2 separate regions of the Homo sapiens genome follow, and region 2 is linked to region 1. The links come from fine-mapping of genetic effects on gene expression. A gene starts in region 1. The other region holds a variant in brackets. All regions are shown on one strand. Distances are between the middles of the regions.

Evidence for each region.
Region 2: its variant is fine-mapped to the expression of RPA1 in cerebral cortex (GTEx, PIP 0.92).

The regions. Positions count from the first base shown.
Region 1 is chr17:1,820,776-1,837,183 of GRCh38, forward strand. RPA1 (replication protein A1) reads left to right here and starts at 9,230. Exons shown (of 17, transcript NM_002945.5): 1 at 9,230-9,351. The coding sequence starts at 9,319. SMYD4 (SET and MYND domain containing 4) reads right to left here and starts at 9,127. Exons shown (of 11, transcript NM_052928.3): 1 at 8,951-9,127; 2 at 7,086-7,231. The coding sequence starts at 7,219. RefSeq lists enhancers at 3,170-3,309, 10,126-10,626 and a silencer at 8,979-9,498.
Region 2 is chr17:1,888,700-1,905,107 of GRCh38, forward strand. RPA1 (replication protein A1) reads left to right here. Exons shown (of 17, transcript NM_002945.5): 14 at 1-152; 15 at 3,134-3,241; 16 at 6,310-6,396; 17 at 8,372-11,383. The coding sequence ends at 8,476. Among named protein-coding and RNA genes, the nearest start is that of RPA1, 67 kb to the left of the region's middle. RefSeq lists enhancers at 15,470-15,519, 15,600-15,649. The variant C/T (reference allele first, on the strand shown) is at 9,196.

The sequences.
Region 1 (16,408 bases):
AAGGCATCTCTTGTGGGAAAACATTCCTCAAAGAATGTCTATTGGCAAGAAAGAAAAGTGTGTGCTTGGCTTTAAACTTTAAAGGGCCAGTTCCTATTTTTACCTAACAGGCATGCATGTGGAGATCAGAAGTTTAAATCTTTTTTGGTTACTTTAGATTGTGATGGAACAGAATTACAAATAGCTCTTTGAGCTAACTTGTTTTTAAGGAGAGAGGTCTGGGTATGAATTAGTGAGAGACATACAGAGCAAACAAAAATGGAGGTGATTTATTAACCCCAGGGGAAACGAGAGCAGTACAAGAAAGGAAATGTAATTCAAAGCATCCTTCACGGTTCATGTGAACAAGACTCACACAGACATAAGAATGTATGCATTGAATGTTGGTTCAATCAATTTAATACTCTATTGGTTATATAACAGTTATCATGAGGGAATGAGGGAAAAACAAAGTATAGGCCGGGCAAGGGGGTTCACGCCTGTCATCCCAGCACTTTGGGAGGCCGAGGAGGGTGGATCACATGAGGTTAGGAGTTTGAGACCAGCCTGACCAATATGGAGAAGTCCCGTCTCTACTAAAAATACAAAATTAGCTGGGCGCGGTGGTGCATGCCTGTAATCCCAGCTACTCGGGAGGTGGAGGCAGGAGAATCGCTTCAACCCAGGAGGCGGAGGCTGCTGTGAGCCAAGACGGCACTATTGCACTCCAGGCTGGGTGACAAGAGCGAAACTCTGTCTCAAAAAAACAAAAACAAAAAACAAAGTATATACCTGTGAGTTGGGAAGAAGAGAGCAAAATTACATCTAAAATTATACAAACTCAAGAAAGAGCAGTATTTGCAATGTTTAGAAATAATAAATTACGTGTCAGAAGGCTGGGCACAGTGGCTCACACCTGTAATCCCAGCACTTTGGGAGACCAAGGTGGGCAGATCACCTGAGGTTGGGAGTTTGAGACCAGCCTGGCCAACATGGTGAAACCCCATCTCTACTAAATATACAAAAATTAGCTGGGTGTGATGGCACACACCTGTAATCCTAGCTACTTGGGTGGCTGAGGCATGAGAATCGCTTGAACCTGGGAGGCAGAGGTTGCAGTGAGCCCAGATCGTGCCATTGCACTCCAGCCTGGGTGGCAGAGTGAGATTCTGTCTCAAAAAAAAAAAAGGTCTGGTGTGATGGCTCATGCCTGTAACCCCAGCACTTTGGGAGGCTGAGGCGGGTGGATCCCTTGAGGTCAGGAGTTTGAGACTAGCCTGGCCAACATGGTGAAACCCTGTCTCTACTAAAAATATAAAAATTATATATTTTAGGCATATATAGTAGTGCATGCCTGTAATCCCAGCTACTCGGGAGACTGAGGCAAGATAATCACTTGAACCTGGGAGGCAGAGGTTGCAGTGAACAGAGATCGCGCCACTGCACTCCAGCCTGGGTAACAGAGTGAGACTCTGACTCAACCTGTTAAAAAAAAAATTAAATGCCAGAAGAAACAGTTAATTTAAAGTAGCTGTCTCTGGGGAATAAGAATCAGGAATGGGGAAGAGTGGACAGGGAGTTGCTGTTTTTCCTGATAAGTTTTGAAGCACTATTTGATTTCTTAAAGTATGTATGCATATTATTCTGATAAAAAATTAAACTAAGGAAGGAAAATATTTTCACTAAGGCATCTGGTCTACATAGTTTTACAGAATTTTTCTACTAGCCTTTAAGAAGCACATAATTCCTACATTATATAAGCTATTTCAGAGCACAGAAAAAGGCGGGAAGCTCTCCAATTCATTCTGAGGCTACCATAACCCACCATGGTATCAGCTGGGATTACAGGTGCCCGCCACCATGGCCAGTTAATTTTTTGTATTTTTAGTAGAGACAGGGTTTCATTCACCACGTTGCCCAGGCTGGTCTTGAACTCCTGACCTCAGGTGATCCACCCGCCTTGGGCTCCCAACATGCTGGGATTACAGGTGTGAGCCACTGCACCCGGTCAGATGATTTAAAAACTCTTACCTTTTATTTACACCACCAATCACCAATTAGAGAATGTAATTGGGGGGAAAAGCCTTATTCACAATAACAACAAAAACCTTACAAGAAGAATAAATCGAACATGAAATGTGTAAGACCTATATAAAGAAAACTATAAAACTTTACTTAAGGACATAGAAGAAGCCTTAAAGAAATGGACATACCCTTTATTTGGATTAGGAAATTTAATATTGTAAAGATGTCAGGTCTCCTTAAGTGAATCTATAAATCCAACACATTCCCAATCAAAAGCCCAACAACATTTTTTATAGAACTTGAGAAGCTGGCCGGGCACGGTGGCTCACGCCTGTAATCCCAGCACTTTGGGAGGCTGAGGCGGGTGGATCATGAGGTCAGGAGATCAAGACCATCCTGGCTAACGTGGTGAAACTCCATCTCTACTAAAAATACAAAAAAAAAAAAAAAGATAATAAAATAAAATTAGCTGGGCGTGGTGGCAGGCGCCTGTAGTCCCAGCTACTCGAGAGGCTGAGGCAGGAGAATGGCATGAACCCAGGAGGCAGAGCTTGCAGTGAGCCGAGATCACGCCACTGCACTCTAGCTTGGGTGACAGAGCGAGACTCCGTCTCAAAAAAAAAAAAAAAAAAAAAAAAAGAACTTGACAAGCCAATTCTAAAGTTCACATGGGGGAAATGCACACAAAATACCCAAGATATTCTGGAATACGAACAATGACTATGTGTGTGCGAGCAGGAAGCTGGCCTCTGGGCCACTTCCTGGGAGCCGCCTGGGTACTGAGACTCCCCTGCTTTCAAGTACCCTTTCTCTCTACTTCCGGTAAATCTCAGTGGGGAATCCATTTTTTGAGGCTGAAGAAGGGTAGACCCCATTTCACAGCAGGGTTGGGCACATGACACAGGCCTGGCCAATCAGAGGAGTCTCATACCTCTGGTTGAAGGGATGTGCATGTGATCAAAATTCAGTTGACCTGAGCCCCACCCAGAAGTTTTCTGCTGAAACTTCAGAAAGACAGCCTCTTCCCCTGGGGTGTTATTACACTATCAGGGTGTGCCCAGGGCTGTGAATGGTTATAGCACCCACTAGATGGAGAGAATCTGTCTGACACATGAAGAAATACACATTCTGATGACATCCTTTGAGCCCCTGAATACAACCTAGCCTGAAAATAGATCTCCCTTCAGATAGCCTAGTTTCATAGCTAAAAGTTTCATACTTTGAAGGGGGTTTCTGTTACTTGAAACTGAAGAGTTCTAGAGTTTCTAAAATGACACTATAGGCCAGGTGGGGTGGCTCACGCCTGTAATTCCAGGACTTTGGGAGGCCAAGGTGGATGGGTCACCTGAGGTCAGGAGTTTGAGACCAGCCTGGCCAACATGGTAAAACCCCGTCTCTACTAAAAATACAAACATTAGCCGGGCATGATGGCGTGTGCCTGTAACCCTAGCTACTTGGGAGGCTGAGACAGGAGAATCGCTTGAACCCACGAGGCACAAGTTGCAGTGAGCTGAGATTGCGCCACTGCACTCCAGCCTGGGCGACAGAGGGAGGCTCAGTCTCAAAAGAAAAATAATACTAATAAAATACACTATAAAGTCACAGTAATTAAAACCCTTTTGTTCCGGCACAGATCTAGAGCCTAGAAACAAATTTGTGGATAAGTAGTGATATGGCGTGGCTGTGTCCCCACCCAAATCTCATCTTGAACTGTTATTTCCCAGAAGCCTGTGTTGTCGGAGGGACCTGATGGGAGGTAACAGAATCGTGGGAGTGGTTTCCCCATGCTGTTCTCGTGATAGTGAGTGAGTTCTCACGAAATCTGATTATTTTATTTATATTTATATTTTTATTTTTTGAGATGGAGTCTTGCTCTGTTGCCCAGGCTGGAGAGCAGTGGCACAATCTCAGCGCACTGCACCCTCCGTCTCCCAGGTTCAAGCAATTCTCCTGTCTCAGCCTCCTGAGTAGGTGCGGTTACAGGCACATGCCGCAATGCCTGGCTAATTTTTTTTTTGCATTTTTAGTAGAGATGGGGTTTCACCATGTTGGCTGGGCTGGTCCTGAACTCCTGACTTCAAGTGATCCTCCTGCCCCAGTCTCCCAAAGCGCTGCGATTACAGGCGTGAGCCACCGCGCCCGGTGAAATCTGATGATTTTATAAGGGGCTTTCCCCCTTTGCTCAGCACTTCTCCTTCCTGCCACCCTGTGAGGGCTGTGCCTTTTTTTCCTTCGTCTTCCACCATGATGGTAAGTTTCCTGAGGCCTTCCCAGCCATGTGTGAGTCAATTAAACCTCTTTTCTTTATAAATTACCCAGTCTTGGGTATTTCTTGATAGCAACGTGAGAATGGAGTAACATGAGTAGGAATTTAATTTTAATAACTGAGGCATTTGCAAGCACTGGGGAAAGGATGCGTCATGCATTAAATGCTACAGAAAAATTGTCCACCTGGAAAAAAAGTGAGAATATTCCTTCACATAGTACACAAAATCAATTGGAGATGTATACATACATCATAACATAATGTTGTACCCCTTAAACGTATATTTTGTCAGTTATACCTCAATAAAGATGGAGGAAAAAGTGCAGAAGGATTAGAGAGCTAAAGGTAAAAAAATGTTAGCAGAAAACAATGAACATTTTTATCAACTCCCAAGTAGTTGGAATTACAGGCACATGTCATGTTGTCTGGCTTCATTTTTATACAGCCATATCTGTCATTTTCTTTCTTTTTTTTTTTTTTTTTTGAGAAATAGTCTTGTTCTGTCACCCAGGCTGGAGTGCAGTGGCACAATCATGGCTCGCTGCAGCCTTGACCTCCCAGGTTCAAGTGATCCTCCCACCTCAGCCTCCTGAGTAGCTGGGACGACAGGCACATGCCACCATGCTTGGCTAATTTTTAAAATTTGTTTATAGAGATGGAATCTCACTATGTTGCCCAGGCTCCTGGGCTCAAGCAATCCTCTCACCTTTGGCTCCCAAAGTGCTAGGTTTACAGGTATGAGCCACCGCACCCAACCTCATCTTCTTTTATACCTTCTGGGTTGTGTCTTGCTTAGGATGGTTCACTCCACCATCCTAAGGAAGACAGGAGGATCGCTTGAGCCCAGGAGCTTGAGGTCAGCCTGAGCAACATACTGAGACCTTGTGTCTAAAAATAAATTTTAAATGAAATTTAAAAATTTGAAACATATATACACAATTTATATACAATGTAAATGTAAAACATTTACATTGTAAATAGGGTAAAAAAGATAAACAGATTGGGAATAATTTATACAACAAATAGTAACTTACATAGCAAAGAACTATACAGCTAGATTTATGAAGATCTCCTACAAATGAACAAGAGAATAAAGACAACCTGCTAGAAAATGGGCAAGGGACACAAATAGGCAATACACACGAGAAATAAAAATGCACTGGGGGGCCGGGCGCAGTGGCTCATGCCTGCAATCCCAGCACTTTGGGAGGCCAAGGCGGGCGGATCACCTGAGGCCAGGAGTTGGAGACCAGCCTGCCCAACATGGCGAAACTCCATCTCTATTAAAAATACAAAATTAGCCGGGTATGGTGGAATGCGCCTGCAATCCCAGCTACTCGGGAGGCTGAGGCAGGAGAATCACTTGAACTTGGGAGGCGGAGGTTGCAGTGAGCCAAGACTGTGCCACTGCACTCCAGCCTGGGCAACAAGAGCAAAACTCTGTCCAAAAAAAAAAAAAAAAAAAAAAAAAAAGAAAAGAAAAGAAAAGAAATGAAGACTAACAAAAAAAGTATAACCCTAACTGTACCGAGTATCTGAACTGGCAAGGCTCAAAACTGAACTCATTATTTCATTCAATTAATATACGAGCGCCTACTATGTGCCTGGCACAAAGATAAAGACATCAACCTTGAACGTGAAAGGTGTGTGTTTCTGGATCTGCAAATATATAAGGTTCTGCTTTATACGTCATTTTAAGCACTAATAACAGCCAGTAACTAAACTAAGAACTTTATATACATTACCAAGTTGTCATTCAATTAATGTTTACTAACCACTTATTTTTTGACACTGCACTATTTTTGTCTATAGAAAGACAAACAGGCCGGGCACAGTGGCTCATGCCTGTAATCCCAGCACTTTGGGAGGCTGAGGCGGGCGGATCATTTGAGGGCAGGAGTTCAAGACCAGCCTGGCCAACATGGTGAAACCCTGTCTCTACTAAAAATACAAAAATGTGAGCTGGGCATGATGGTGTACGCCTGTAATCCTAGCTATTTGGGACGCTGAGGCATGAGAATCGCTTGAACCCAGGAGGTGGAGATTGCAGTGAGCTGAGATTGTGCCACTGCACTCCAGACTGGGTGACAGAGTGAGACCCTGTGTCAAAAAAAATAAAATAAAATAAAAATAAATAAATAAATAAATTAGCCGAGCATGGTGGTGTGCGACTGTAATCCCAAATACTCGGGAAGCTGAGATACGAGAATTGCCTGAACCCGGGAGGCGGAGGCAGTGGGCTGAGATTGCGCCACTGCACTCTAGCCTGGGTGACAGAGCGAGACAGTCTCAAGAAAAAGAAAAAAAGAAAAAAAAAAAAAGAAAAACAAATACAAACACGGTCCCTTCCCTCATGAAGTTCACAATCTAGCGGCAAAGGCAGGCATTAGTCAAAAGAGCACACACATATATAAAGGAAAATCACACAGCATTGTAAATGTACAAAGAGTGAAGATGGCCCAGCTGAGGCTCAGGGAGAGCTTTCCTGAGGAAAGATCTGGCTAATCCTGCAGGATGACAGAAGTGAATTAGTTCACAGGACACGCTGGGATAGAAACGAACCAGGAAAAGTACTTCAGGCATTTTCCATCAAAAAGAGATGTTACCAGGCCAGACATGGTGGCTCACGCCTGTACTCCCAGCACCTTGGGAGGCCAAGGTGGGAGGATTGCTTGAGCCCAGAAATTTGAGACCAGCCTGGGAAACAAGCAAGACTCAATCTTTATTTAAGAAAAAGACACATTACTTCAGAGCAAATGACAAAATAGAACATTTTTTGGCTCACAATTCCCTTGTTAAAGCTTGATTTACTTACTGAAGAAGTGAAGAGGAGTGAAGAAAGATATCCCTCAAGGTCTCTGCTGTAGAAATTGTGACCTGAACAGACGTCGGGAGTGAAGCCCACTTTTGAAGCAGATATGATTTCCATTCATCCACAGGCAGATCCATGCTGCTTTTGATCTATAAAATGAGTAAGAAAATAGGAATCTTACAAATGCACAATTTTAGAAAATCAAGAGTTCAGCCAGGTACGGTGGCTCACACCTGTAATCCCAGCACTTTGGGAAGCCGAGGTAGGTGGATCACGAGGTCAGGAGATGGAGACCATCCTGGCTAACACAGTGAAACCCCGTCTCTACTAAAACTACAAAAAAATTAGCCAGGTGTGGTGGCGCACACTTGTAGTCCCAGCTACTCGGGAGGCTGAGGCAAGAGAACTGCGTGAACTGGGGAGGCGGAGGTTGCAGTGAGCTGAGATCACGCCATTGCACTCCAGCCTGGGTGACAGAGCAAGACTCTGTCTCGGAAAAAAAAAAAAAAGGAAAATCAAGATTTCATTCAAGGAAGCCTGAAACAATAAAATCAATTCTTGTGGTCTTTTCCTCTAGTTTATATGCTAAGGAAGGATCTATATTTTCTCACAGCAATTCACTCAACATCCTTCCATTCAGAAATATTTACTGAAAGACTACTTTGTCACAGGCACCATGCAGGTGATGGTTATACAAAGACGAAGCAGACTAGATAGCTACCATCTGTGCTCTTAGATCCTCTTTTTTTTTTTTTTGTGAGGCAGAGTCTTGCTCTGTCACCCAGGCTGGAGTGCAGTGGCACCATCTCGGCTCACTGCACCCTCCGCCTCCCAGGTTCAAGCAATTCTCCTGCCTCAGCCTCCGAGTAGCTGGGATTACAGATGCGCGCAACTACGCCCGGCTAATTTTTGTATTTTTAGTAGAGACGGGGTTTCACCATGTTGGCCAGGCTGGTCTCGAACTCCTGACCTCAGATGATCCGCCAGCCTTGGCCTCCCAAAGCGCTGGGATTACAGGCGTGAGCCACCGCGCCCGGCCTGATCCCTCTCTAGTTTCTCTGAGACACATCCCAGATTTTTCTTTCTCACCCACCCCAGCAACTATTCATTTAACAAGGTATTTCCCTCTCTTACATAGTTCAGCGTTCTGATTAAGTCCTCACCATCTCGTCTGGCATTCTTCCTAGAGTGTTATAATTAATGTCCATGCCATTGGCACCACTCCCCACTTTCAATCCAGCCTCCAACACTGAGACAGAAGTCAGTGCTCTGCCCTTAAATTCATCAACGCTACTCCAAGCATACCAGGAAGCCCAGGACAAAACCATCCTTACTTGACCCTTGTCTGACTTTCTAATTCTCAGGTGTCACTTACTCCTCTGCATGCACCCTTGCATACTGAACAACTCATTGCTATCCCCGGCTTGCCAGGCTATTTCAACTCTCCAATGTTTTGGCATAGGCTACTCATGCTTTCCGGACCAACCCTACCCTGGCTTATGGAGTCCACCTGGAAAATTCCCACACGTTCTTCGACTCGGCTCAAATGGCACCTCCTCCGGGACGGCGTCCCTGATTTCCCAGCTGTGATTCCAACACCCTTGGGGCCTGTACCACGTCTACCTGGAGGTGGGGTTACTGACGGCATAAAGTGCCCCCACACACTGTCCTCTTCTCTAAGGACGGGGGCCGGGTCTGATTCCCTTTCGGAGACCCCCCACCCCCACCCCCCACCGCCACGGTGCCAAGCTCAGGGCTTGGAGGCGGGAAGTCAGCCCCGCGTTGCTGGACGAATCGGGTCACTACTGCGACTCTATTTAGCAGCGGAGGTCTCAAGGAACAGCTTTAACCTCCTCTGGGATACCAACCCGTGCACTCGCCAGAGACCGAGGCGAGAACGCCTCGAGAACCGCTCAGACGCGCCCGGAACTGCGCCCTGGTCTCCCTCCCAGCGCCCGCGCAGCTCCTGGCGCGCCCCTTGGCGCCCCGCTCCGCCCCGCACCGCGTCCGGCGTCCCGCGCCAGGCCTCGCTTGGGACCATGGGTGGGTCACGTGGGCCGCGCCTCGGCCAATGCGGCGGCTGCGTAGCGCCCGGGCCCGCCCCTGAGCCGCGCGCACGTCGGGGGCGGGAGCGGTGCGCGCAACTTCTCGGGCCAATAACTGCGCAGCGCGCGGGACCCGGGTGGGGAAGCTGGAGCTGTTGCGGGGTCCGCGGGGAAGTCTTGGCGGTGGAGCCATGGTCGGCCAACTGAGCGAGGGGGCCATTGCGGTGAGGAGGTGCCGGGGGCTGGGCCGGCGGTCCGGGGTGGCTGCGGCCCCGAGCCTCGCGGAGTAGAGAGGGGGAGGGGAGCCCGGGGCGACGGGGGATGAACGCGAGGGGAGGAGATGGCGGGGGGCGGTGGGGACCCGCCGGGCGTCCCTCTAGTGTCATCGCCCCCTCCTCAAAGCATTCTTTCGATCGTCTTTAAAACATGCTCACATTTTTCCTACGTAAGAACAAACTAAATAAACGCTTGCCTTTCTCTGCATCTTCCACCTGCGGACACTTTCTGTCTCTTCTCCTTTCCCCACCCACAGCCAAACTTCTTGTCTGGTTTCAGCCACTTCCTTTCCTCGCCTTTCATCAACTCTTTAACCCACTCCAGTCATCCCTTTGATCGCTGTAGAAAACCCTGGCTGAAGGTACCAGTGGCCTCCAAGTTGCTAAATCCAGCCCTTTTCCGTTTTCAGCTTACCTGAGTTCTCAGCAGCGTTTGCGTTTAAGCCCTGCTTGCTTCAGGTCACACCCTCTTCCTTGGTTTTTAGTGGCTCAGCTTGGCAGGTCTATCCCCGTCTTATTTGTAAGTCCCTCTTTGTAAATTTTTGTTGAATCAAGGCTCCCTCTAGGCCCTCTTGACTCCCGAGGCAATTTCTTTTTTTTTCTCCAGCCTGGGCGACACTCACTGTCGCCCAGGCTGGAGTGCAGAGGCGCGATCTCGGCTCACTGCAACCTCCGTCTCCCGGGTGCAAGTGAGTCTCCTGTCTCAGCCTCCCGAGTAGCTGGGACTACATGTGTGCGCCACCACACTCGGCTACTTTTTGTGTTTTTATTAGAGACTGGGTTTCATCATGTTGGCCAGGCTGATCTCGAACACCAGACCTCAAGTTATCCGCCCGCCTCGGCCTCCCAAAATGCTGGAATTACAGGCATGAACCACCGCGCCTGGCCCCAAGGCAATTCCATTGCCATCTATTAATATATGTCAGTTGCTCACAAATTTCTTTGTACAGAGCCACCTTTACTCTAAAAGACAAACTTCCGTCATCTGTCTGCTTATTCCATGCTTCAGAGGGTTTTAAGTTCAGTATACGTATCCCAAAGCAAATTCTTTATCTTTCTAAGTCTGGGCCTCTTGATCCCTATCTCCACGGATGGCACCATTATCTATTCAGTTCAGTGCTAACCAGAAATTGAGAAATCATTCCTCCTATATTGTCCATTACCTGGGCATCCAGTCCCTCACGAAGTGAAGTGTATTTTGCCTCTGCGTAGATCTATCAAGCCCACTGGCTTCTCTCCATCCATACTGGCACCGTCTTTTTTTTTGCCTGAGCTGCTGACTTCCACTCAGCATACGTTCCTGCCACCATTCCCATCCACAGCATACTCTCAGCCTACCTCTCCAGTCACCCCCACATTTTTTTTTAAATTTAGATTTCTGGTATATTCCATACTCCTACCTTCTTCCATGGGGCCTTTGAACTTTTTTTTTTTTTTTTGAGCTGGAATCTTGCTCTGTTGCCCAGGCTGGAGGGCAGTGGCGCGATCTCGGCTCACTGCAAGCTCTGCCTCCTGGGTTCACGCCATTCTCCTGTCTCAGCCTCCCGAATAGCTGGGACTACAGGTACCCGCCACCACGCCCGGCTAATTTTTTGTATTTTTTAGTAGAGACGGGGTTTCACCGTGTTAGCCAGGATGGTCTCGATCTCCTGACCTTGTGATTCGCCCGCCTCGGCCTCCCAAAGTGTTGGGGTTACAGGCGTGAGCCACTGTGCCCGGCCTTTTTTTTTTTTTTTTTTTTTTTTTTGAGGCAGAGTCTCACTCTTTCTCCCCATACCCCCCCACTACCGCCCCAGGCTGGAGTGCGGTGGCGCAATCTCGGCTCACTGCAACCTCTGCCTTCTGGGTTCAGGCAGTTCTCGTGCCTCTGCCTCCAGAGTAGCTGGGATTACAGGCATGTACCACCACACCTGCGTAATTTTTTGTATTTTTAGTAGACACGGGGGTTTCACCATGTTGCCCAGGCTGGTCTTGAACTCCCAACCTTAGGTGATCCACCCTCCTCGGCCTCCCAAAGTGCTGGGATTACAGAAGTGAGCCACCGCACCCGGCCCTGAACATTTTTTTCCCTCTGCCCACTGCCTGGGTGGTTCTTCACTCTTCCCCACACTGGCAAACACTATCTTCGTATCTCAGCTCATTTGTGACTTCCCTTACTAGGCTAAATCCCTTTGAGACCCCAATTCCTGTTCATTCACTTATTGAATTATTTATTTTTTTTCTTTTTGAGATGGAGTCTTGCTCTGTTGCCCAGGCTGGAGTGCAGTGGCACGATCTTGACTCACTGCAACCTCCGCCTCCTGGGTTCAAGCAATTCTCCTCCCTCAGCCTCCCAGGTAGCTGAGAATACAGGAGACTGCCATGATGCCCGGCTAATTTTTGTATTTTTAGTAGAGATGGGGTTTCACCATGTTGGCCAGGCTGGTCTCGAACTCCTGACCTCAAGCAATCCACCTGCTTCGGCCTCCCAGAGTGCTGGGATTACAGGCGTGAGCCACCGCGCACGACCCCATTCACTTATTAGATGCATGACTTGAGGCAAGATACTAAACTGTTTCTTTTCTGTAAAATGAGAGCAATGATATCTATTGCATAAGGTAAGTAGGAGGATGGAGTGAGTTATTAAATTTAAAGTGCTTAGCACACTGATACATAGTAAATGCTCAGTGTTTATGTTACCTATTAATAATTGCAGTTTTATGTTTGTTGATTTATCAGTTTCTTTTTAAAATTTTAAAATTATTGTGTTTGTTTGTTTGTTTGTTTTGAGACAGAGTCTTGCTCTGTTGCCCATGCTGGAGTGCAGTGGCACATTCTCGGCTCACTGCAACCTCTGCCTCCCGGGTTCAAGCGATTCTCCTGTCTTAGCCTCCCTAGAAGCTGGGATTACAGGTGCCCACCACCACACCCTGCTAATTTTTGTATTTTTAGTAGAGACAGGGTTTCGCCATGTAGGCCAGGCTGGTCTTGAACTCCTGGCCTCGAGATCCACCCACCTTGGCCTCCCAGTATGCTGGGATCACAGGCTTGAGCCACTGTGCCTGGCCTAATACTTTGTGTAAATTCCATGAGGCCTGCAATCATGTCTGGGTTATTTTACTCTGCATTGTATCCCCAATACCTGGAGAAGTGCTGGCAAGTTTTAGGTGCTGAATAAATGCTTGCTAGTTGCATGAATGAATGAGGCAGTGGGAAGAAAGGGACAGGTGAATGGGGAAGAAAGGCAGCTTGGGGGAAAAACAGGAACAGGAAGAACTATTGTTGGACTCAAGTGAATATTTAAATAAATTAGGAATGTGTGAATGCTGAAACCGGGGAAGTGATTTTAAATTGTAGCTTTCATTTACTTTATAGCTGCTACCTTGTGTCTTTAAGACAAATTAAGAATGTTTCTAGGCCAGGCGCAGTGGCTCACGCCTGTAATCCCAGCATTTTGGGAAGCCAAGGCAGGCAGATCACCTGAGATTGGGAGTTTGAGACCAGCTTGGCCAACATGGAGAAACTCTGTCTCTATTAGAAATACAAAATTAGCCAGGTGTGGGGGCGCATGCCTGGAATCCCAGCTACTTGGGAGGCTGAGGCAGGAGAATCTCTTGAACCCGGGAGATAGAGGTTCCGGTAAGCCAAGATCGCACCATTGCACTCCAGCAACAAGAGCAAAACTCCATCTCAAAAGAAAAAAAGAAAAGAATGGTTCTTCACTTTTAAAAAGACTGATCATGGGCCAGGCGCAGTGGCTCATGCCTGTAATCTAAGCACTTTAGGAGGCCAAGGCAGGTGGATCACTTGAGGTCAGGAGTTCGAGATCAGCCTGGCCAACATGGGGAAACCCTGGTCTACTAAAAATACAAAATTAGCTGGGTGTGTTGGCGTGTGCCTGTAATCCCTGCTGCTTGAGAGCCTGAGGCAGGATAATTGCTTGAACCCGTGAGGCAGAGGTTGCAGTGAGCCGAGATTGCACCAGTGCATTCCAGACTGGGCGACAGAGTGAGACTGTCTCAAAAAAAAATAAAGAATGATCATGGAGATATTTAAATAATTTGATAAGTTTTTTTATTTTTTAGAGATGGGGTCTCACTCTGTTGCCCATGCTAGTCTCAAACTCCTGGGCTTAAGCGATCCTCTCGCCTCAGCTTCCCAAAGTGCTGTGATTATAGATGTGAGCCACTGCACCTGGCCATGTTTTTATATTCAAAATTTTATAAACCTATTTCCAGCGTAGGTGAAGTATTTTGTTCATAAATGAAGAATGAAAGTTTCACATGTGTTTGTGGTGATGGAATGAGTTGGAGAACCTTTGCTGACTTTCATTATCAGCTAAAGCAGGTATCATTTTCGTTCAAAAGACACAGGCCACAAAGGGTACGCAAATACCACACACATGTGAAGGCGTTTGGGCAAGAGTCACATGATAAAATAAGAGATGATGCATAGAACTCTTGTGGTCAACAGAATACATAGCATTTGTATCTTAATTATATAACGAAAGGGGAAGGGAACTAATGTTTTTGACTATTTCTAATGTGACAGATGCTTTAGTAGTCAGTACTTAAGTAACCCTAGAAGATAGCTATTATACTCCCATTTTACAGAGGAAGGAAGTACAGAGAGGTTGAATAATGTGTCCATGGGGTGAAGATTTGAACACATGTGCCCTTGAGTATTACATTTGTTGCTTTATATACTTACTAGGGATTTTTTTTTTAAAGGGTCTCACTCTGTTGCCCAGGCTGGGGTGCAGAAGCACAATCTCAGCTCACTGCAACCTTCACCTCCCAGGTTCAAGTGATTCTTTTGCCTCTGTCTCTCGATTACAGACGTGCGCCACCACGCCCAGCTAATTTTTGTATTTTTAGTAGAGATGAGGTTTCGTCATGTTGTCCAGGCTGGTCTTGAACCCCTGGCCTCAAGTGATCTGCCGCCTCGGCTTCCCCAAGTCCTGGGATTACAGACTTGAGCCATTGCACCTGGCCGTAATTTTTTTTAAATGACAGAGTCTTGTTCTTTGTCTCTCAGGCTGGAGTGCAGTGGCATGATCATAGCTCACTGCAACCTCCAACTCCTGGGCTCAAGTGATCCTTCCACCTCAACCTCTCCAGTAGCTGGGAGTACAGGTGCATGCCACCATGCCCAGCTAATTTTTTTTTTTTTTAATTTTGTGTAGAGATGGGGTTTCGCCATCTTGCCTAAGCTGGTCTCTAACTCTTGGTCTCCAAACAGTTCTCCTGCCTTGCCTCCCAAGTCTTTGGGATTATAGGCATGAGCCACTGTGCCTGGCCTTGTCCCTTAAAATGAGTTACATTTGTAAACAGCTGATTTCTTTGGAGCATCGTCCCCATATACTTTTCTTTCATAAGTGATCTCATCCTTCTTCCACCCAACCTTCCCCTTGAATTTGTTGTTTGTTGTTGTTTCCATTTTAGCAGAATTCATGTTGCTCTGATAGGGGCTCTTTTCAAACTGATGTCTTATCCTTCTTAGTACCTCAAACTAGGTCTTGTTCAGACATGTTATAACAAGTTAGTATGAGTTTATTTTAGTGCAAAAAAAATTTTTGAAATGCATGCATAGTTTTTTCATAATGCACATTTTTCGTGTACTTTTTGAATCCCCCTCATACATGCACGTGGTTTTAAAATCAAACGGAACAGAAAGGTGTTCATGGCCGGGCATGGTGGCTCACATGTGTACTCTCAGCACTTGGGGAGGCTAATGCAGGAGGATCCCTTGAGGCCAAGAAAGAGTTTGATACCAGGCTGGGCAACATAGCAAGATCCTGTCTCTATTTCATTTAGAAAGAAGAAAGAAAGAGGTGTTTAATGTAATTACTGACCTCCTGCCTTACCTTGTCCAGTACTGTTCCCCAGAATAACTGCTTTTTAGAAAAATCACTGTCATTGACATTTTGCTTACGTATAGTAAATTGCACCTTTTTTATTTATTTATTTATTTATTTGAGGCAGAGTTTCCTCCTGTCACCCTGGAGTGCAGTGGCGTGATCTCAGCTCACTGCAACCTCTGCCTCCCAGGTTCAAGCAGTTCTCATGCCTCAGTCTCCTTAGTAATTGGGGTTACAGGTGCACGCCACCACCTGGCTAATTTTTGTATTTTTAATAGTGATGGGGTTTCACTATGTTGGCCAGGCTGGTCTCGAACTCCTGACCTCAGATGCTCCTCCTGCCTTGGCCTTCCAAAGTGCTGGGATTACAGGCATAAGCCACCATGCCCGGCCAAATTGCACGTATTTTAAATGTACAGCTTGATGAACTTTGACAAATGTGCGCACCCCTGTAACCACATTGCCCCTGTGGAGATATAGAATACTTCCATCAACGCACAACTCCTCTTGCTCCTTCCCCACCTCCATCCTCACCCTAGGCAACCAGTGTTCTGGTTTCTACCTTTGTAGGTTAGTTTTGCCTTTCCTAAGACTTCATATAAATGGAATCAAATAATATCTATCCTTTTGTGTCTGGCTTCTTTCAGCAGTTTTTTTTTTTTCCCCAGAGGTAGGGTCTCTGTCACCCAGGCTGGAGTGCAGCGACACAGTCATGGCTCACTCCAGCCTTGACCTCCTGAACTCAAGAGATCCTCGCACCTCAGCCTCCTGAGTAGCTGGGACTACAAGTGCATGCCACCACTCTTGGCTAATTAAAAAAAAATTTTTTTTTTTTTTTTTGAGACACAGTCTTGCTCTGTTGCCAGACTGGAGTGCAGTGGCGCAATCTCAGCTCACTGCAACCTCTGCCTCCTGGGTTGAAGCGATTCTCTTCCCTCAGCCTCCCGAGTAGCTGGGATTACAGCCGCATGCCACCATCCCCAGCTAATTTTTGTATTTTTAGTAGAGACGGGGCTTCACCACGGTGGTCAGGATGGTCTCGATCTCTTGACCTCGTGATCCACCCGCCTCAGCCTCCCAAAGTGCTGGGATTACAGGTGTGAGCCACCACGCCCGGCCTAAAAATATTTTTTGTAGCGATGGAGTCTTGGTGTGTTGTCCAGGATG
Region 2 (16,408 bases), 68 kb after region 1:
CAGTGGTGTATCTTCGCAAAGAGAACTGCATGTACCAAGCCTGCCCGACTCAGGACTGCAATAAGAAAGTGATTGATCAACAGAATGGATTGTACCGCTGTGAGAAGTGCGACACCGAATTTCCCAATTTCAAGTACCGCATGATCCTGTCAGTAAGTAGCCTCGGTAGATGAGAACCACGGTTGTGTTCACGGAGGCCCTCCCGTGTGCCAGGCACTGTGGTCACAACAGTAGAGACAAAGCATTCCTGGTAGGAAGCCCGCAGATGAGTAGGTGTGGAAGAGCTTATCCATCCGCTTTTTCATGCCAGAAAGTGGTGTTGAGATACCCCAGCTGATTCAGTCTTTCATGCACGTCATACAGCCATAGCGTCAGTGACACTTGCCTGCTAACTGCTATGAAGATAAATTAATTTGAAAACGGCATTTATAGACAGCACTAATTGTACTTACACAGCCAATGCCCGTATTTAGTCACTTTCATGTGGATAATCTATTCTCTAGCTTTAGTATAGCTGACTTCAGAGGAATGTGACGGTGTGCTGATGTGAGATTGTTGCTTTTTTGCATTTTAAGAATTGTTTCTTTCTGTTTTAAAAACCTTTTTAAAAAAGTTGTAAAGTTGGGTTTAAAAAAATTTTTTTTTTTTTTTAAGAAACAGGGGTCTCACTCTGTTGCCCAGAATAGAGTGCAATGGTATCATCACAGCTCATGGTGGCCCCAACCTCCCGGGCTTAAGCAGTCCTTCCACCTTGGCCTCCCAAGTAGCTGCAACTACAGCTGTGCACCACCACACCCAGCTAATTTTTAAAATTATTTTATTGTAGAGACAGGGTCTCGCTCTGCTGTTCAGGTTGGTCTCAAGTTCCTGGCCTCATGTCATCCTCCCACCTCAGCCTTCCAAAGTGCTGGCATTACAAGCCTGAGCCACTGCACCCGGCCTTAAGATTTTTATTTTGTTTTGTTTTGTTTTCAATGATAGAACTAGGCGATAATAGCAGTTTAAGAAAACAGTTTAAGGCCGGGCACAGTGGCTCACTTTTGTAATCCCAGCACTTTGGGAGGCCGAGGCGGGTGCGTCACCTGAGATCAGGAGTTTGAGACCAGCCTGGCCAACATGGTGAAACCCTGTCTCTACTAAAAATACAAAAATTAGCCGGGCGTGGTGGCGGGTGCCTGTAGTCCCAGCTACTCGGGAGGCTGAGGCAGGAGAATCGCTTGAACCCGGGAGGCAGAGGTTGCAGTGAGCCGAGATCACACCACTGCACTCCAGCCCGGGCGACAAGAGCAAAACTCCATCTCAAGAAAAGAGAAAAAGAAAACAGTTTCACATTTTTCCAAAGGATGATTTGGCAGTAATATATCAGAAGCCTGAAAAATGTTCATATTGGCCAGGCGCAGTGACTTGTGCCTGTAACCCCAGCACTTTGGAAGGCTGAGGCAGGATGATTGCTTGAGGCTGGGAGTTCGATATCAGCCTGGGCAACATGGCAAGACCCTGTCTCTACAAAAAGTAAAATTAGCTGGCTGTGGTGGTATGCACTTGTCCCAGCTACTCATGAGGCTGAGGTAGGAGGATCGCTTGAGCCCGAGAGGTCAAGGCTGCAGTGAGCCATGATCGTGGCACTGCACTCCAGCCTGGGTGACAGAGTCAGACCCTGTCTTTAAAAAATAAATAAATAGGCCGGGCACGGTGGCTCACGCCTGTAATCCCAGCACTTTGGGAGGCTGAGGCAGGCGGATCACGAGGTCAGGAGATCGAGATCATCTTGGCTAACACAGTGAAACCCTGTCTCTACTAAAAGTACAAAAAAATTAGCCAGGCGTGGTGGCGGGCACCTGCAGTCCCAGCTACTAGGGAGGCTGAGGCCGGGGAATGGCATGAACCCGGGAGGTGGAGTTTGCAGTGAGCCACGATCGCGCCACTGCATTCCAGCCTGGGTGACAGAGCAAGACTCCATCTCAATAAATAAATAAATTAAATTAATAAATGATAAATAAAATGAAATGTTAGCTTAGCAGGACAGTTCTACGTTTAGGCTCATTTTTTGTAAACTATAAACTTTTCATTGAACTAAGATGAAGAAAATTTGTTTTAGTTTGTGGAAACATCAGCCTTTCTGTTAAACTCCACAGCGCAATCTCCCGCACACTTGTTTGATTTGATATTTATCACACGTGTGCGTCATTGTAGTTCTTGCCCTGTGTGATGAGATGCTCTTTGCTTCTTAGAAGGATAGCGTGGGTTAAAGGAAGTGTGAGCCCAGGGTGTGATACCGTTGCTGTGTATTGAGAGCGCTTTTCACTTTTAACTGGTTTCGTCACCTTATTTTTCGTCATAACATTCTCTCTATTAAAAGCCTTGTACCCATGCAAAATGAAGATGTAAAATCGTCAAAATGATGCCTTAAAGAAAAACCACTCGTGTTTCTACAAAGGCTTTTACTTCAGCAAGTGGATTCTTTGAGATCTGCTTTCTTCCTTGACTTTGCCCTGTTTAATGTTACACCACAGCCCAGTGGGAGACATTTGATTGCTCATTTCCTTTGCCAGGTCAATTTGGTGACTGACAGAGGCTCACGGGCAGGCTCTTCAGTTGTCTGGGTGCCCAGCAGTGACAGAGCCGTCTCATGGAACTCCTCCTAGGAACTACAGAGTGGGCAATTGAAAATGCAGAGAACTCCCCCGATTCACTCAAAACCCTTCATCCAAAGCCAGCTGCACCTCGACAGGAACTAATCTGATGGGCCTCTCTCTGTCACCCAGGCTGGAGTGCAGTGGCTCGATCTCAGCTCGCTGCAACCTCCGCCTCCCGGGTTCAAGTGATTCTCCCGCCTCAGCCTCCTGAGTAGCTGGGATTACAGGCACCCGCCACCATGCCTGGCTAATTTTTGTATTTTTCGTAGAGACGGAGTTTCACCATGTTGGCCAGGCTGGTTTCAAACTCCTGGCCTCAAGTGTTCCACCCGCCTTGGCCTCCCAAAGTGCTGGGATGACAGGCATGAGCCCACTGCACCTGGCCCTCTCTGGAAATTATTTTAATAAGTGGAAAAAGAACATTAACCTCTCCCCATCTTCTCAGTGTGTCTTTTTATTATTTCTTTGCTGAAATAATGTAGAATTGTGTTTTTTAGGTAAATATTGCAGATTTTCAAGAGAATCAGTGGGTGACTTGTTTCCAGGAGTCTGCTGAAGCTATCCTTGGACAAAATGCTGCTTATCTTGGGGAATTAAAAGACAAGGTCAGCCACATATTTTATTATAACTTCTATAACTTTTAATGGTTCTCATTCTATAACACTGACCCCACACATTTTTTTTTTTTTGAGATGGAGTCTTGCCCTGTTTCCTAGGCTGGAGTGCAGTGGCGCGATCTCAGCTCACCGCAGTCTCCGCCTCCCGGGTTCAAGTGATTCTCCTGCCCCAGCCTCCTGAGTAGCTGGGATGACAGGCACCCGCCACGATGCCCGGCTAGTTTTTGTATTTTTAGTAGAGACGGGGTTTTACCATGTTGGCCAGGCTGGTCTCGAACTCCTGACCTCATGATCTGCCCGCTTCAGCCACCCGAAATGCTGGGATTACAGGTGTGAGCCACCACACCTTGCCCAACACTGGCCCTCTTTTTGCTGTTTAATATTTTTTAGTTTGTTTCTTTTTGGTATTGTTTGTATACAGTTTCTCAGCCTGATAATTATTTAAGAGCTCATCTGATGTTATCTAATCTTGTCCATTTGGGATGTGCTTAACAGTGAAATAATGTATATAAAAGTACTTTAAAACCAAAGCACTTTCTAAATCGAAGCCACCCGTTTCTCCTGTTCCTATTAGCACATCAGAGCTAGTGTGCCTGAGATGACTTAGGTCGGGAGGTGTCCCTGAAACAACCTGAATTATTACAGGCATGCTTTTTTAACATAGTAAATACCTTCCAGAAAAGTTGAGTCAGATCCTGGTTAAAATGCACGTATGTCAAGTTCCTGGGTCTGTCCTATAAAACAATAATAATAAATGCACATATAAGGTGCCTGCCATTTCAGCCCATCAGATGCAATTCTTATGCGGTGACTTTCTTCCGTAAGGTAACTTTGTCCATTTCATTTTTATAAGTTTGCATTTTCACATATTAGGTTTATTTAATGTACAGAATAGATTGCTAATAATGCTGAATTTAGGAAAGGTAGTTGCTCAGGTAAAACATAAGGAAGACCAATAAAAGCTATGTTTTCTGGGCCACATAAATGGGCACCTTTCTGTAGATGGCTTTTCCCCCGATTTCCTCCAAATTGGTTGGAATACTTGTAAAGGCCACAAAGATGAAAGGCTTTGCCATTTGTTCTGGTGTGTTTTTCTTTTTCTTCCTGTCCCCAGTTCTGTCTGTTTGGGCTCTGCCCTGACTCTTTTTTTAAATTGTCCATGAGAGCTCTCAAAATAGTCTCAACAAATCCTGTTACAGAAATAACTAGAATTGACTTTAAAGTGTGATAGTATCTTTTGTCTGTTTTTACCTGGTCTTCAATTTTCGTATCAGATTTTAAGGCCCGAGTAAGCCTTTCAGGATTTTTATGAGCTTATTATATTTGACTGTTTTTTCTGCCGGTGAATGAGGACATATAGAAACTTCCCCGAGGAACCGTGAGATCCTGGAGTTCGCACTCCACGCCCCTCATCTTGGAAGCATAATGGCAGCCGGTGTAATTTTCTCAAGCTTTAACCCATTGTTTTATTTTCATATCTGAAAGTCCATTTGGTTTGGGTTTGGGTTTTGATCAAGTAACCTTTACAGAAAAGAGTTCTGTATAGCAAAGCTGCTTTCACGCCGTGCGTGACTTGCAAAAAACACTAGGTTGGTGTGAACTATTAATTAGTTTTTCTTTTTTTTTGTCAAAGGTCTCAATCAACTCTGTTAATATAGTTATTACACATTTATTTATGCATCTTTATACAAACTATATTCTCTAATTCTTGTCTGTTTACCAGACTTTTTTTTTTTTAATAAACTTAAATTGCATTTGAGGAGTGAGAGAGGGAAAAGGATTGTTTTTAGGCCTTCCCTAGCCTTTGCGCACCTCAACAGTCTTCTCTGCTTGCACACCAAATCAGTAGCTATAAATACAGAGGCTGAAATCACGAATTATATTGAACTTTCTTCTGAGTGTTTTTCCTTTTTTTCTTTTTTTTGAGACAAGGTCTTGCCTCATCACCCATGTTGGAGCGCCGTGGTGTGCGATCATGGCTCACTGCAGCTTCAAACTCTTGGGCTCAGACAGTCCTGCCACCTCAGTCTCCTGAGTAGCTGGGACTACTGGTACACGCCACCATACCTGGCTTAAGTTTTTTTTTTTTTTTTTTTGGTAGAGATGGGGTTTTGCTATGTTCCCCAGGCTATTCTTGAACTCCTGGCCTCAAGCAGTCCTCCCACCTCGGTCTCCCAAAACATTGGGATTATAGTCACGCGCCACCATACCTGACCTCCTAATTTTTTTTTTTTTTGAGAGTCTCGCTCCATAGCCCATGCTGGAGTGCAGTAGTGCAGTCTCAGCTCACTGTAGCCTCCGCCTCTCAGGTCGAAGCAATTCTTCTGCCTCAGCCTCCCTAGTACCTGGGATTACAGGCACCTGCCACTATGCCCAGCTAATTTTTGTGTTTTTAGTAGAGATGGGGTTTCACCGTGTTGGCCAGGCTGGTCTTGAACTCCCAACCTCAAGTGATCCACCCGCTTCCGCTTCCCAAAGCGCTGGGATGACAGGTATGAGCCACCGTGCCCAGCCTTAAAGTCTTAGAAACTTCCTAAGAGCGTTTTTAATTTTTTGTGTCTAGTAAAGCATACATAACCAAATTTGCCTTTGTAACCATTTTTACGTGTACAGTTTAGTGGCGTTAGGTACATTCACATTACTGTGCCCCTGTCACCACCATCCTTTTCCAGTACTTTTTTAAATAGGCAAATTCATAGAGACAGACGACAGCCTTGTGTTTTCCAAGGATGGAGGGAAGGGGAGAATGGAGACACACTGTTCATGGGTGGCGATTTGAAACTCTGCACATTAAGCAATAGCTCCTTTTCCAAAACCCTCTTCTCCCTGGCCCTGACAACTGCCATTCTACCTTCTATGAATGTGATTAGTGTTTTAATTTTCAATAAGATTCTACTTAAAACAGTTTCATGTAATGTTACCTGTAGATGAGTCATTCCTAAGTAATTTGAAACTACCCAGGAGATGCATTTTCAGAAGTCTTTTTAAAAGTCTTATCAGTATTTGCAAGTTGTCCAGTGGTTTCCATGTGTCAAGTTTTATGTTTGTTTTTGCAGAATGAACAGGCATTTGAAGAAGTTTTCCAGAATGCCAACTTCCGATCTTTCATATTCAGAGTCAGGGTCAAAGTGGAGACCTACAACGTAAGTAAGGGCCTGGGCAGCAGGGTTGGTGGTGGGGAGGTGCTGTTTGTCACCTACGGCAGTGTCGTGACACTCCCTGGCAGGGAGTTACTGTACTCACTGCCAGACCCCGGTGCTGACTTTGCCCAACACAGGTGCTGTTATGATCCCCATTTTCAGATGAGGAAGGAGAGAGAGCTTAAGTGTCTTGTCGAAACAATGGCGGGGGGGTGGGGAATACAATATGGATTTTTTTGTTTGTTTATTTTTTTTATTTTTATTTTTTTTCAGTTAAATCCTAGGATTTTTTCGTCTGTGTTCTGACAAAAAAATTATAACGCATGCAGTAGAGTCATATCTTTGACAAATTTAGATTGTAGAAAAGTATATTAAGTATATGAGCCGGGCGTGGTGGTGTGTGCCTGTGGTCCCAGCTACTTGGGAGACTGAGGCAGCAGTTCAAGGCCAGCCTGGGTAACATAGTGAAACCCCGTTTCTAAGTCAGTCAGTCAGTATATGAAACAAAGGCCACGTGTGGTTAAAACTACCTTGAAAATTCCTGAAATTGCCCATAATACCATATAGTATTTATTTATTTATTTATTTATTTATTTATTTATTTATTTATTTGAGACAGAGTCTCTGTCACCCAGGCTGGAGTGCAGTGGGACGATCTTGGCTCACCACAACCTCCGCCTCCCGGGTTCAAGTGATTCTCCTGCCTTAGCCCCTCGAGTAGCTGGGATTACAGGCGCCCGCCACCATGCCCGGCTAATTTTTGTATTTTTAGTAGAGACGGAGTTTTCACCATGTTGGCCAGGCTGGTCTCGAACTCCTGACCTCAGATGATCCACCCGCCTCAGCCTCCCAAAGTGCCAGGATTACAGGCATGAGCCACCGCGCCCAGCTTAGTTATAGTTATAATCAAACAGTATTGAGCATGGTCTGCCAGGTAACTGTTCTACATCCTTTACGTGGAACATCTCACTTGAGCCTAGTAACCCTATATGTAGAAACTGTGGTTACCCTATTTTGCCACTGAAGGAATTACATACAGAGAGACACGGGCATTCAGAGAACAAGTCACTTGCCTAAGTTGTATGCTAGCAAGTGGTCGAGCTAACGTCCAACCCAGGCAGCCTGACTTCAGAGCTTTGCTTTTGATCATGCTTACGAGTATCACGGGATTTAGTACCGACCAAGCACACAGCAGTGTGACAGCCCCGAGCTCGCCTGTGCAGCCTTCCTGGGTATCACTCCGTTCTGCCCGGAAAGGCACCATTCAGGCCGTGAGTGTAAACGTACGAGTGGGCAGGGGGAGTGGTAGAAACGCCCCTGCTGATTGCAGGGTTTACTCACGTATTTACCTTAACGCCCGTTCTTCTGCGACTACTATAAACATTAAATGAGATAGGGGATCAGATGTCACCGTGAAACAATGTCAGGGAGTGGGGTGGGGCTGGGGGGGATTTTTGGGGCCATTCAGCCCCATCGTGTCTGGACAGGGAAGGTGAAGTGAAGAGAGGCTGCCTCCCCAGAGCTGAGACAGGACAGACTCGGTCCTCTCCCTCTGCTGCAGGTGCTCTTCCTTTCACCACTCAGCTTTTCTTGAAATGAAAGTTTGAAAGTTTAGCTTTCAGAACTAGCTGTGTGGCTTTGTGCAAGTCACATGTCCTCTCTGGGCTGTATCCCCTGCAGTAGGGAGAATAAATGAAACTAGAGAAACCCTCTAAAGTCCATCTCACTAGGATTCTAGGCTTCTGGGTGTTTGGGAGCTTGGGTAAAGAATCAGAAGGGCCTGTGCTGGAGAAAGGACCTGTTCACTCGCCCAGCCCCAGACATTCAGGAGGAGGCTGTCACTCACTGGAATGACTGAACTCTGAACCCGTGCGTCTGTTCCCTCCCGCTGGGCTCACTGAAACCACTGAAGCAAAAGGGGTTTCACTGCTCCACACCACACTTTCACTGCTCACAAACTACTTCTCCCTTTTTGAAGGACGAGTCTCGAATTAAGGCCACTGTGATGGACGTGAAGCCCGTGGACTACAGAGAGTATGGCCGAAGGCTGGTCATGAGCATCAGGAGAAGTGCATTGATGTGAGAGGAGCAGTGCCAATCGGGCAGAAGTTTGCAAATAGGCAGAATGGAATCGATTTCCTCCCACCTCCGTGTGACGATCCCATGTTAGCTACACAGTGCAGAGGCTCTTGATGGTGGACTAAGCAATTTCCCCCCTCGTGCGCATCTCAGAACCCATCGGTAGGCAAAGGAAAATACGCTCAGGTGGTTGTGGTGTAGACTGTGTCAGGCCTACGGAGTCAGCCAGTGGCTAGCGCAAGACCAGTCACTCCCTCTGCCTTCAGGCTTCTGTCAATTTCATTATCATCAAGCAGGAATTATGTCGTAAGTCACTGACCCTAACTGCAGACCATGAAGTAAATTATGTAACTAGGTTTTTGCTTCTCCAGTGGTGACCACCCCCCCCCATCCCCGCTCACAACTTGGGTTCTTCTCAGCGGGGCGAGCTGAGAAGCGGTCATGAGCACCTGGGGATTTTAGTAAGTGTGTCTTCCTAGAATTCGAAGGCTCTCTCTTTCTAGAGGTGCTACATAGTTGGTAATGCTTGGAATGGCAATAGGGTAGAATGATTAATCAAAGGCATATCTTCTATATCTGAAGAGTATCCTTCCTTCAGGGTTTAATAGACTGAGTCAGATGGGTCTGATATTAATCAAAATTGTCTCTTCTGAGGACCGCTGATAAGCATTGACTTGCCGTCCCCTAAGGAAATCCGAGCGGCTACAAAGCGTTTCTTTACTT[C/T]TCACTTCAATTAATGCTGCGCTTCGCTTGGTGAGTGCGTACTTTTTCTACCTGTACACATTCCTGCATTCATGTATTTTGTTTTTTTTGACTAAAGCTATGTTACATGGAAAGGATTTTGAAGCCTTTTGTTTCCCTTGCTTTGTTTTAATAAACAGTATATTCTTTGGTTGTGAATCCTACTTTCTTTGAATGCAAAGAGTTCCTATAACTGGAAAGCAATTAATTAGCCTTCATAATAAATGTTCACTTGGGGGGGATGTTAACTCATTATAAACCCGAAGATTAGTCCAAGGCATGGAGATCCTTCTTCCTAGTGTTTGCAGCCCTGAAATGCATCTTTCAAAGCATGAAAACACTAAAAACAAAAAGCCATTTTGCCTGAGGATGCTGATGATCTGGCACTTGGGATTTTATTGATGTTTACGCAGCAGTCTAACACCAACCACGCTTTGAAATGTGTACAGACAGTGAGCTGGTAAGAAAACAGTAATTATGCTAGTGGGCCTTTCAGTCAGCAAAAGCATGCTCGCTCTGTGTGTTCCTAATCATATTAATTATCTATCCGGTGGCTGCAACACACCGCCTGCCATTGGCCGCACATCTCGCCGTCGTACCCCGGCAGTGCGGCGGTCACTCTGCAGCCAGAGGACCTGCTGTTCATCACTGCACATGCCGCCTGCGGAGGCTTTTGGATATGGGGAGTGATGGTGTCCTGTCTGTCTCCCCCCTCGGTGTCTGCCGTTGACATAGGGGCCAGCCAGCCCTAGACGGGATGACTTCCGTTCCTGAGGACAGACACAGAGGGACTCCTGCTCAGCCTCACTAATTGTTTAGACACATTCCTTCCTACCCTTCTCTAGTCTCAGGAGATGGTAACTGGGTCGCATTTCAGTCTCTGACTGAGGCCTCAGCCATTTTTACGGAAGTTCTTTTCTGTCTGACCTTGCTTATAAAGCATCGACGAGAAAATTACAGTCTTCAACCCTCTTCTGGATTGACAAATTGTGGCTGGGAAGTGGCGATCTAGCTTTCAGCCCAGTAACCAGTCTTTCATGCCTACTACTCCCAGCATTCCCTCCTCTCCCCACGTGTCTGTCCACACAGTGAAGAGGCCTGACCAGCCGTGGTACCAGGACAGGACGTGTCCAGGGAACGCTGACACCTGTCCTCGCGCCTTCTCAGTGGCCAGCGTGATGAAACCAGCACGTCTCCGTGGATGTGATTGGGAACCCAGGGGCAGTGCCAGGGGGAGGGCTCCCTCGAGGAGGCTGTTTCTAACAGATTTCCCCACTCAAAGATCAGATCACCAGCAGAGGAGCATCAGAAACTGGCTCCACTGTTGGGCTTTTCAGAGATTTTGGTCCCTGCGGGTTGCCTAAATAGATTCTGGCCCACAGTTTACCTCGAAAGGCTGTTGATGTTGTTCTGTTTCTCCTCTTTCACTTAGAGATCAATGTTGATTTTGCGTACACCATGACATCAGCGTTAGGCAATTAGGAGAAAAAAATCTAATCATTTCGCCTTTATTTCAAGTGGTTCTTGAATTCCCTCCAGTCTCATTGTGAAAGGGGCAGGGAAAAAAATAAAAGGGTAATAATCTGATTTCTGTCCATATTTCCAGTGTTTTATGCTTTCCATTAAAACCTTGCTAATCTCTCGCGTGCTGTTCCTTTTTTGAACTGCAGGGTCAAAAATGTTCCCCTCCCCCACTTCTGTTTCCTGAGTGGGCTGTCTTCAAAAAGTATAAATACTATTGATCGTGGTATTTAATACACTAATGAAACCCATGGTTATTGACTACATAATTAATATACTGTCCAAAAGTGAAGTTTGGCCGCCCAGTATGTAAAGGTTTATATTGACTCATGTTTCTTTGGCAATATGCCGCCCAAGGTTTTATTTATAGAGGATGAAACAGGTTGTTTGGTCTCCTTTTCTTCTTTTCACCTGTTAGAAGGCCACTATTCCCCTAGTAAACTGATTGTTTCCTTGTCTCAAAGGGAAGATTCCCCCCACTCCCCGGCCACCTTTTATGTGGTTTGTTAACTCTTAGTCTTATATCCACTCCGCTGGTAGAGTTCTGGCTTTTATAAACACCTTTGGAAGTCATCGGTTCCTCAAAAAGAGAGCATAGATGTTTAATTTTCACTTATTCAAAAAAACTGGTATTTTTGTTATTAAGACATTAAGTAAATGTTTAAGAAAAAAAAGGATAATTTGGACTATTGACTTTCTTATGCAAGTAATCATATTTGTTTGTTTGTTTGTTTATTTATTTTGAGACGGAGTCTTGCTCTGTCACCCAGGCTGGAGTGCAGTGGCACGATCTCAGCTCACTGCAACCTCCGCCTCCCAGGTTCAAGCGATTCTGCCTCAGCCTCCTGAGTAGCTGGGACTACAGGCATGTGCCACCATGCCTGGCTAATTTTCTGTATTTTTAGTAGAGACGGGGTTTCACCGTGTTAGCCAGGATGGTCTCGAACTCCTGACCTTGTGATCCACCTGCCTCGGCCTCCCAAAGTGCTGGGATTACAGGTGTGAGCCACCGCGCCCGGCCTCCATGTTTATTTTAGGAAAATAATCTACAGTTAAGAAAAACAAAATTGGCCTGGCACAGTGGCTCATGCCTATAATCCCAACACTTTGGGAGGCTGAGGCGGGCAAATCGCTTGAGCCAAGGAGTTCGAGACCAGCCTGGGTAACATAAGGAGACCCCCGTCCCTACAAAAAAATAAAAATTAGCTGGGCGTGGTGGCACACACCTGTAGTCCCAGCTACCTGGGAGGCTGAGGTGGGAGAATCACCTGAGCCGTGGGAGGTCAAGGCTGCAGTGAGCCATGATTGCACCACTGCACCCCAGCCTGGGCGACAGAGCGAGACCCTATCTCAAAAAAAGGGGGAGAAAGGGTGGGTGCGGTGGCTCTCCCTTGTAATCCCAGCACTTTGGGAGGCCAAGGCAGGTGGATCACCTGAGGTTAGGAGTTTGAGACTAGCCTGGCCAACATAGTGAAACCCCACCTCTACTAAAAATACAAAAATTAGCCAGGTGTGGTGGTGGGCTCCTGTAATCCCAGCTACTCGGGCAGCTGAGGCAGGAGAATCACTTGAACCTGGAAGGCAGAGGCTGCAGTGAGCTGAGATCGCACCACTGCACTCTAGCCTGGGCGACTGAGCGAGACTCCATCTCAAAAAGGCAAAAGAAAAATAAAATTACTTAGGATTTCACCAACCAGTAATAAACACTTGTGTAGCTGGCTACTTTTTTCTTCTTTTTTTTTTTTTTTGAGACAGAGTCTTGCTCTGTCGCCAGGCTGGAGTGCGGTGACACGATCTCAGCTCACTGCAACCTCCACCTCCCGGGTTCAAGCAATTCCCCTGCCTTGGCCTCCCAAGTAGCTGGGACTACAGGCATGTAGCTGGACTACAGCCTGGTAGTTGGGACTACAGGCATGTGCCACCGTACCCAGCTAATTTTTTGTATTTTTAGTACAGATGGGGTTTCACCATGTTAGCCAGGATGGTCTCGATCTCCTGACCTCGTGATCCGCCCTCCTCGGCCTCCCAAAGTGCTGGGATTACAGGTGTGAGCCACCGTGCCTGGCCCTGGCTAGTTTTTTCTATGTATCTATGTGTATAGAGTTTAAATTAAAAATGGTAGCATAGTAAGCATATCATTTTGTAATGATTTTCTCCTAGGATGGGCATCTTTATTTTGATAAAAATTGCATCAGAACCACCATTAGGCCAGGTGCAGTGGCTCACACCTATAATCCCACACTTTGGGAGGCCAAGGCAGGTGGATCACTTGTGATCAGGAGTTCAAGAGCAGCCTGGCCAACATGGTGAAACCACATCTCTACTAAAAACACAAAAATTAGCCGGGTGTGGTGGCTCACCCCTGTAATCCCAGCTGCCCGGGAGGCTGAAGCAAGAGAGTCCCTCCCCGTGAGGCAGAGGCTGCAGTGAGCCAAGATCACACCATGGCACTCCAGCCTGAGCGACTGAGGGAGACTCCATCTCAAAACAAAAAAATCACAAACATAATTAAAAGATTTACTAATCATTAATAGCTTTAGATAAATAATTTTAAGTGGTGTTTGGCTCTTTGGATGTGTTTTCAGCCAATTCACTCTTGCAGGATGCTTATACTTTTTCTAATTGTTATAAATTCAAGATTTCACGAGCAGAAGCGTTTATGCTTTGTGGCACTGACAATCCATGCCTTTTCTTGTTCTGTTAGGTTCTCTCATTGATTTTTCTTTGCCTAAGTCCAGGGATAACTCCTCTAACCCTGTGTACCACCAAGGGCTGGTAGGTAATTTGAGCAGGTCCTTCCTTGGAAGCAGGTAGATTAATGTAGGGAGGGGAGGGAAAAAGAAGGCTTTGGAGCCCTGGTTTCATCCTGCCTACTACACAGACGGGGGCTGTGCCTATGAAGAGGCGAAACTCTTGTTTCCCACCACCCTGGCAAAGAAGGCCTCTTGAGAATACATTTGACTTGCCTATAAATCAACCTGATTATCTAAAGCTATTAATGATTATTAAGTCTTGTAATTATATTTGTAATGATGGTTTTGAAAAGTCATTGAGAAAAGTATGTAGCCACTCGTCTTCATGGTTCCAGCCTGTCAGTATGTGACTTTATTTTTTGAGATGGAGTCTCTGTCGCCCAGGCTGGAGTGCAGTGGTGCGATCTCGGCTCACTGCAACCACCACCTCCTGGGTTTAAGTGATTCTCCTGCCTCAGCCTCTTGAGTAGCTGGGACTACTGCACGCCCAGCTGATTTTTTGGGGTCTTTTTGTTTGTTTGTTTGTTTGTTTTTTAGACGGAGTTTCACTCTTACCCAGGCTAGAGTGCAGTGGCACAATCTCGGCTCACTGCAACCTCTGCCTCCCAAGTTCAAGCAATCCTCCTGCCTCAGCCTCCCAAATAGCTGGGACTACAGGCGCCCGCCACCATGCCCAGCTTATTTTTTGTATTTTTAGTAGAGACGGGGTTTCACCGTGTTAGCCAGGATGGTCTCAATCTCCTGATCTCGTGATCTGCCCGCCTCTGCCTCCCAAAGTGCTGGGATTACAGGCGTGAGCCACCACGCCCAGCCTTAGTATGTGACTTTTTTTTTTTTTTTTTTTTTTTTTGAGATGGAGTTTCGCTCTTGTTGCCCAGGCTGGAGTGCAATGGCGTGATCTTGGCTCACTGCAAACTCTGCCTCCCAGGTTCAAGCAATTCTCCTGCCTCAGGCTCCCGAGTAGCTGGGATTTACAGGTATATGCCACCGCGCCCAGCTAATTTTCTATTTTTAGTAGAGACCATGTTGGTCAGGCTGGTCTCAAACTCTCGACCTCAGGTGATCCGCCCACCTTGGTCTCCCAAGGTGCTGGGATTACAGGCGTGAGCCACCGCGCCCAGCCAGTGTGTGACTTAAAGATATCTGTCCCTGAGAGCTATGGACTATTTAGAGCAAGGCTTGGGGGCTAAGTAGTCATATCACAGTGATATTAAAATGCAGTTGAGGGGGAAATTGCTGGAAGACTGGAGTCAATCAGGAAAGACTTCACAAAGAATTGGGTGATTTGAGACTCACTGATTAGAGCCTTCATTTAGGTCGGGGCTGTCCGGTCTGTATGAGGCAGACCGAGAGCAACACTGGTAACAGTGGCATGCGCTGTGTTCGTCACTGACACGAAGCCACGCGGTGCCACGGAGGCTGGGTAGAGGTACTGAACGGAAATGGGTTCCTGGTGCAAATAGGACAGTGTTTGACTATGGGCTGAGTGAAAGTTTCTTTTTTTTTTTTTTAATTTTTTATTTTTTTGAGATGGAGTCTCTCTCTGTTGCCCAGGCTGGAGTGCAATGGCACGATCTCGGCTCACTGCAACCTCCACCTCCCAGGTTCAAGCGATTCTTCTGCCTCAGCCTCCCGAGTAGCTGGGATTATACAGGCGTGTGTCACCACATCTGGATAATTTCTGTATTTCTAGTAGAGACAGGGTTTCACCATGTTGGCCAGGCTAATCTCGAACTCCCGACCTCAGGTGATCCGGCCTCCTCGGCCTCCCAAAGTGCTGGGATTACGGGCGTGAGACACTGTGCCCGGCCAGTAAGAGGTTCTTGTGTTATCCATTGCCATACCCCTAACCTGCATTGGGTTTGTCGTGACAGTGTCTGACTTGCCAGTGAGCTCGTGGGTGTTTGTGAGAGGCTTTGAACCAGCCACCTGGCTGCATTTGCAGCTTCTCAGGCTCTTAGTAGCTGTCGCTTTACACCCTCTCCTTAGCTGTTGATGAGTCTCAAAATGTATACTTTTCAATAAAACAAATCTTTTTTTCAGCCTTGAATAGACCCTGTGAAAAACTGAATCCCACCTGCCTCGTGAGAAATATTTATATAGCCAACTCAGAAGTGATCGTGTAAACTTTTAATAATTGCGAGCCGTTCTTATAAAATTATGCCCGTTCCCTAGTGCATTACCCAGTTGGTAATTGGAAGTTTGTGCTGTCATTAAAAATGACAGCTTCCTCAGATAACATTCTCGGTGCTTGTAAAATGCAAATAACCAAACCTATATTTAACTTATGTGTGTTGCAGCTTCCTTTCAACGGCCAGGTAACCTAGGGGGCTGGTGCCTGTTAAAGAGGAGGGCTTGCCGCGGGGAACTGCAGCTTTGTGCTCTTCAATGCCCAGCCCTGAAATGGAGTTAGAACAGGCAGGACTTTTTAAAAATAAGCCCCAGTTGGACTCTCATCTCCTCTCACCGTTGACACTGCTGTTCATGTTGAAGTTTATTTATATCTTCAGTCAGCCATGGTACAGAGGTCATTTCCATTGGCCTAAAATTTTAGAGGCTTATATGTTTGCCTGGGAAAGCTGATCTCCTCAGCACTTAGGCTTGTAATGCAAAGCCTGTCTCTTGCAGAAGCTTTTCTGCTTCCATAACACGGCGACTCCCACCGTCACCACCACCACCAATTTCCTGCTCCACGATTTATTCAAAATCTGAATAGCTGTATAAGGTGCATCCCTGCAAATGAGCTCTCCTCCTCTAATGGGCTCTTTCCAGGCAGCAAACCTTTCACAAAGGAGCCACTAATTAAGCAAAAAACAGTTTGTCTTGCTTAGCCACGTTTCAGGAGTCCAGCAGTCAGTTTAGAAGACGGCAACATCCTTTACAGCCGTGATGGTAATAATATTCTTTTGTCTCATACCAGG